Linked DNA regions of Homo sapiens: region 2 is linked to region 1. Evidence: fine-mapped expression QTL. Tissue or cell type: whole blood. Region 1 holds a variant in brackets; the other region holds the start of a gene. All regions are shown on one strand. Distances are between the middles of the regions.

Region 1 (2,723 bases):
GCGCTGGAGGGGCCAGGCCTGTCGCTGCTGTGCCTGGTGTTGGCGCTGCCTGCCCTGCTGCCGGTGCCGGCTGTACGCGGAGTGGCAGAAACACCCACCTACCCCTGGCGGGACGCAGAGACAGGGGAGCGGCTGGTGTGCGCCCAGTGCCCCCCAGGCACCTTTGTGCAGCGGCCGTGCCGCCGAGACAGCCCCACGACGTGTGGCCCGTGTCCACCGCGCCACTACACGCAGTTCTGGAACTACCTAGAGCGCTGCCGCTACTGCAACGTCCTCTGCGGGGAGCGTGAGGAGGAGGCACGGGCTTGCCACGCCACCCACAACCGTGCCTGCCGCTGCCGCACCGGCTTCTTCGCGCACGCTGGTTTCTGCTTGGAGCACGCATCGTGTCCACCTGGTGCCGGCGTGATTGCCCCGGGTGAGAGCTGGGCGAGGGGAGGGGCCCCCAGGAGTGGTGGCCGGAGGTGTGGCAGGGGTCAGGTTGCTGGTCCCAGCCTTGCACCCTGAGCTAGGACACCAGTTCCCCTGACCCTGTTCTTCCCTCCTGGCTGCAGGCACCCCCAGCCAGAACACGCAGTGCCAGCCGTGCCCCCCAGGCACCTTCTCAGCCAGCAGCTCCAGCTCAGAGCAGTGCCAGCCCCACCGCAACTGCACGGCCCTGGGCCTGGCCCTCAATGTGCCAGGCTCTTCCTCCCATGACACCCTGTGCACCAGCTGCACTGGCTTCCCCCTCAGCACCAGGGTACCAGGTGAGCCAGAGGCCTGAGGGGGCAGCACACTGCAGGCCAGGCCCACTTGTGCCCTCACTCCTGCCCCTGCACGTGCATCTAGCCTGAGGCATGCCAGCTGGCTCTGGGAAGGGGCCACAGTGGATTTGAGGGGTCAGGGGTCCCTCCACTAGATCCCCACCAAGTCTGCCCTCTCAGGGGTGGCTGAGAATTTGGATCTGAGCCAGGGCACAGCCTCCCCTGGGGAGCTCTGGGAAAGTGGGCAGCAATCTCCTAACTGCCCGAGGGGAAGGTGGCTGGCTCCTCTGACACGGGGAAACCGAGGCCTGATGGTAACTCTCCTAACTGCCTGAGAGGAAGGTGGCTGCCTCCTCTGACATGGGGAAACCGAGGCCCAATGTTAACCACTGTTGAGAAGTCACAGGGGGAAGTGACCCCCTTAACATCAAGTCAGGTCCGGTCCATCTGCAGGTCCCAACTCGCCCCTTCCGATGGCCCAGGAGCCCCAAGCCCTTGCCTGGGCCCCCTTGCCTCTTGCAGCCAAGGTCCGAGTGGCCGCTCCTGCCCCCTAGGCCTTTGCTCCAGCTCTCTGACCGAAGGCTCCTGCCCCTTCTCCAGTCCCCATCGTTGCACTGCCCTCTCCAGCACGGCTCACTGCACAGGGATTTCTCTCTCCTGCAAACCCCCCGAGTGGGGCCCAGAAAGCAGGGTACCTGGCAGCCCC[C/T]GCCAGTGTGTGTGGGTGAAATGATCGGACCGCTGCCTCCCCACCCCACTGCAGGAGCTGAGGAGTGTGAGCGTGCCGTCATCGACTTTGTGGCTTTCCAGGACATCTCCATCAAGAGGCTGCAGCGGCTGCTGCAGGCCCTCGAGGCCCCGGAGGGCTGGGGTCCGACACCAAGGGCGGGCCGCGCGGCCTTGCAGCTGAAGCTGCGTCGGCGGCTCACGGAGCTCCTGGGGGCGCAGGACGGGGCGCTGCTGGTGCGGCTGCTGCAGGCGCTGCGCGTGGCCAGGATGCCCGGGCTGGAGCGGAGCGTCCGTGAGCGCTTCCTCCCTGTGCACTGATCCTGGCCCCCTCTTATTTATTCTACATCCTTGGCACCCCACTTGCACTGAAAGAGGCTTTTTTTTAAATAGAAGAAATGAGGTTTCTTAAAGCTTATTTTTATAAAGCTTTTTCATAAAACTGGTTGTAGTTGCACAGCTACTGGGAGGGCAGCCGGGGACACCTGAGCCGCCCGCTGTGCCCAGATCCCTCAGGCTGCCTGCCATCAGAACTGCTGCCCGGGGCTTCCCCTACCTCAGACAGACCCTCCCTGGGAGGATCAGTGGGGAGTGCCACCTCTGCCCCCAGTGGCTGTGGCACGTGGCAGGGGCCCCTGAAGCTCAGCGAGGGTCAGGGCCTGGGAGGGTATCATTGCTGGAAGAACAGGATGGGGCTCAGGCCAGCCCTAGTCGCCGGGGCCCACACTAACCCCCCACTTATGAATTCCTCCCACTCCCAACTCACAGGGGATTTCCCGAGAGGGGACCTGCCAAAGACCTCCTCCAGGCCTCCCATGCTTTCCGGGAAGTGAAGCTTCTCCCTCTCTGGGGCAGGCTCTGAAGCCTCCCGATGCACCCAGAGCAACCGGGGGGCTGCACCAGCCACTCGCCTCCCCAGCACGGCCAGGTTCCCGGGGCTGGAGGTCCCCCCCAGGTCCTGGGAACCAACCTGCAGAACACACACAGGGTCCCCTGGAGAGGACGCGGGGACTTCCAGGGCCCGACTCCTGTGAGTCACAGCCCCGCAGCTGCTGCGCCACCCCCACCCTGACTCATGCCCCTTCCCAGCAGCTCCTCCCAGGACCCCATGTCCTTCCCACATCCGCAGGAAGGGAGTGCCTGGACTCTCCAGGCCCACCTGGGGAGCCCCTCACCTGCCCACCAGCCCCTGAGCAGCCCAGTAACACCATCACCGTGTCCAACAGCCAGGAGCCTCCACCCTCCAGGAGGGAA
Region 2 (2,601 bases), 38 kb after region 1:
CGCGGAAGGCCGGGTGGAGCCCATCCATGCTGTGGTGTTGCCTCGAGGGAAGTCGCTGGACCAGTGTGTGGAGACCCTGCAGAAGCAGACCAGGGTTGGCAAGGCTGGCACCAACAAGCCCCCCAGGTGCCGGGGAAGAGGGGCCAGGCCTGGGGGCCGCCCAGCTCCTCGGAATGTGTTTGACTTCCTCAATGAAAAGCTGCAAGGTCAGGCTCCTGGGGCCCTAGAAGCCGGGGCGGCCCCAGCGGGGAGGAGGAGCAAGGACATGTACCATGCCAGCAAGAGTGCCAAGCGGGCCCTGAGCCTGCGGCTCTTCCAGACTGAGGAGAAGATCGAGCGAACCCAGCGGGACATCAGGAGCATCCAGGAGGCTCTCGCCCGCAACGCTGGCCGGTACGTGTGGGGCCCAGCTCAGGGCAAAGGGCGACCCAGGGTGGCCCTGCCCCCGGGATACATGCTGGAGGTCACCTGACCCAAGCATAGCGGGCTGAGTCCAGGAGGGGTCTGCATGTTGGAGGACGGGCAGCGGGCACACAGGCAGTGGGTACGGCAGACTGGGGTTGGTGGCATGGCCCAGGACCCCACGCTGACTAGTGAGCCCCTCCGCAGGCATAGCGTGGCGTCAGCCCAGCTGCAGGAGAAGCTGGCAGGAGCCCAGCGCCAGCTGGGGCAGCTCCGGGCTCAGGAAGCCGGCCTGCAGCAGGAGCAGAGGAAGGCAGACACCCACAAGAAGATGACTGAGTTCTAGAGACCCCACAAGCACTATGGACGAAGCGTGGGACCCCAGCACGGGCTGCCCTCAGGAAGACCAGTGTTGCCCGAGGAGGGGCCGGCCTGCTGGCCTGGGGCGTGCAGACACTGCTGAGTGGAGACAGAGCTGCGGGGTCCCATCTGGACACTTACTTGCCCACCTGCCAGTGTCTTGGGCATTTCCTTGGCAAGGACATTAAAGTGATTTCATCACAGTGTCATTCAGTGGAGATCAGCTGGCTGCAGGGTCTCTGGGGAGAGAAGGGTCTGTGCAGGGCTGTGGTGAGAGACGGGCTGGGCTGGAGGGGCCTAGGAGGCCGGCATTCTCCCTTCTTACCCTTCTCTGACCAAGGCAGATCGGAGGCCAGGGTGCCCGCCAGGCTGCCTGACACCCACAGATGGGTGGAGCTCAGTGCTGCTCCAGCGGGCGAGACGGGCGGGAGAGGACTGTGGCCCACCACGTGGGGCACTCTTGGTGAGGCAGGCGGACCTGGCCCTGTGGGTTTGGGGGTTCTGTGCCAGCTCTGCTCACGTCTTCGTGTGTGGAGGGGTTGTGAGTTAGGCTGTCAGAACAGTGCGGGCTAGAGGCGCACACGTTTCATCTAGGCTTCGGGCGGGGCGCAGCAGGTGGGTGAGGCTGCGGTGGTGGCTGCTGCCCAGGGTGGGAGGCTCAGGGGAGGCGCTTGGCGACAGGAGCAGGAAGTGATGAGGTGGGGAGCTCAGCCGAGGGCTGCACAAAGACCTTCCTGGCCTGCCCCAGACAGAGCTGAGGACCCCTGGCCGTGGGCTTGGTAAGTGCCCTCCTGGGGGGCAGCTGGGGTCTGGGAGGCCTTGGGATGTGGCTGCAGCTGGGTCAGTCAGCCAGGCTGAAGCCCACTCCCTGGGTCTGAGCAGACTGGCCCCAAACTCCAGAGACCACCCCTCACCCCCCAGCTTCTGTCTCTGCTGCTGGACTGTGCTGTTTGTAAGGCATCCCCCACCCCGAGAAGTTCTGCTAAGATCCCCAAGAAGGGGACAGATCCTCTCTGGCAGAGACACTGGCAGACAAGAAGAGCCAGAGAGAAGTGGGGTGGGGGCATCAGCACCCCCAGCAGCTGCTGCTGCCTGCTGACCCAGCCTCCAGCTCCTCCGGGTGCAGGGTCCCTCCTGCTGACCAGCCTCCAGCTCTTCCCAGTTCTGGGCTCCGCAGCGAGCGGCTTGGGGGCACTACCTGACACAGGAGACCATGTCTGGGCAGAGGGTGGCTGCAGGTGGAGTCTGTGGCCTGTGGCGCACACCCAGGGGCTCCCCCGATGCTGGTTACTATCTGGGCTATGGTGGCCACAGCTGTCTTGCCCCTCCTCACGGCCGTGCTGGGTGTTACCGTGGTCACCCGCAGGGACACGGAGGGGCCAGGCAGAGCAGCCCTAGTTCACCTCACCGGGAGCCCCCGCCAGAAGGTGGGCACCTCTGGGAGGGAGGGACTGCCAGGCCTTGGGGCTTCCTGTGCTGAGTCAGAGCTGGAACGGGAGACGCAGGAGCCCCGCAGCCGCGGGAGGTGCAGATTTGGGGCTGCCAGGTGGCGCCAGGTCCCCTTGGCCAGCCCCCAGCGCCCCTTTCTTCTGTCCCCAGGGCCTCGGCTTCACAGGATGGGGCTGCCAGTGTCCTGGGCCCCTCCTGCCCTCTGGGTTCTAGGGTGCTGCGCCCTGCTCCTCTCGCTGTGGGCGCTGTGCACAGCCTGCCGCAGGTAGGTCCCTCAGCCGCGTTCTGTCTGGGGCCTCGCTGCGGCTGCCATTCACAGCCCAGCGCGGGAAGGGGCTGGAGGCAGGTCCGCGCACCCAGCTCGGCACGCGCGCCTGCACCGGGCCTTGG

Evidence for each region. PIP is the estimated chance that this variant, and not a neighbour inherited with it, causes the effect.
Region 2: LIME1 starts here. The variant in region 1 is fine-mapped to the expression of LIME1 in whole blood (INTERVAL, PIP above 0.99).

What each region holds. Positions count from the first base shown.
Region 1 is chr20:63,696,774-63,699,496 of GRCh38, forward strand. TNFRSF6B (TNF receptor superfamily member 6b) reads left to right here. Exons shown (of 3, transcript NM_003823.4): 1 at 1-418; 2 at 555-749; 3 at 1,507-1,911. The coding sequence ends at 1,790. It overlaps ARFRP1 (ARF related protein 1), which reads right to left. Exons shown (of 8, transcript NM_001267547.3): 8 at 1,874-2,723. RTEL1-TNFRSF6B (RTEL1-TNFRSF6B readthrough (NMD candidate)) reads left to right here. Exons shown (of 38, transcript NR_037882.1): 36 at 1-418; 37 at 555-749; 38 at 1,507-1,925. Among named protein-coding and RNA genes, the nearest start is that of TNFRSF6B, 1.5 kb to the left of the region's middle. RefSeq lists enhancers at 984-1,033, 2,129-2,178, 2,419-2,598, 2,669-2,718. The variant C/T (reference allele first, on the strand shown) is at 1,453.
Region 2 is chr20:63,735,172-63,737,772 of GRCh38, forward strand. LIME1 (Lck interacting transmembrane adaptor 1) reads left to right here and starts at 1,493. Exons shown (of 6, transcript NM_017806.4): 1 at 1,493-1,541; 2 at 2,362-2,476. The coding sequence starts at 2,379. It overlaps ZGPAT (zinc finger CCCH-type and G-patch domain containing), which reads left to right. Exons shown (of 7, transcript NM_181485.3): 6 at 1-393; 7 at 610-971. The coding sequence ends at 748. RefSeq lists enhancers at 919-1,098, 1,678-2,594 and a silencer at 2,529-2,601.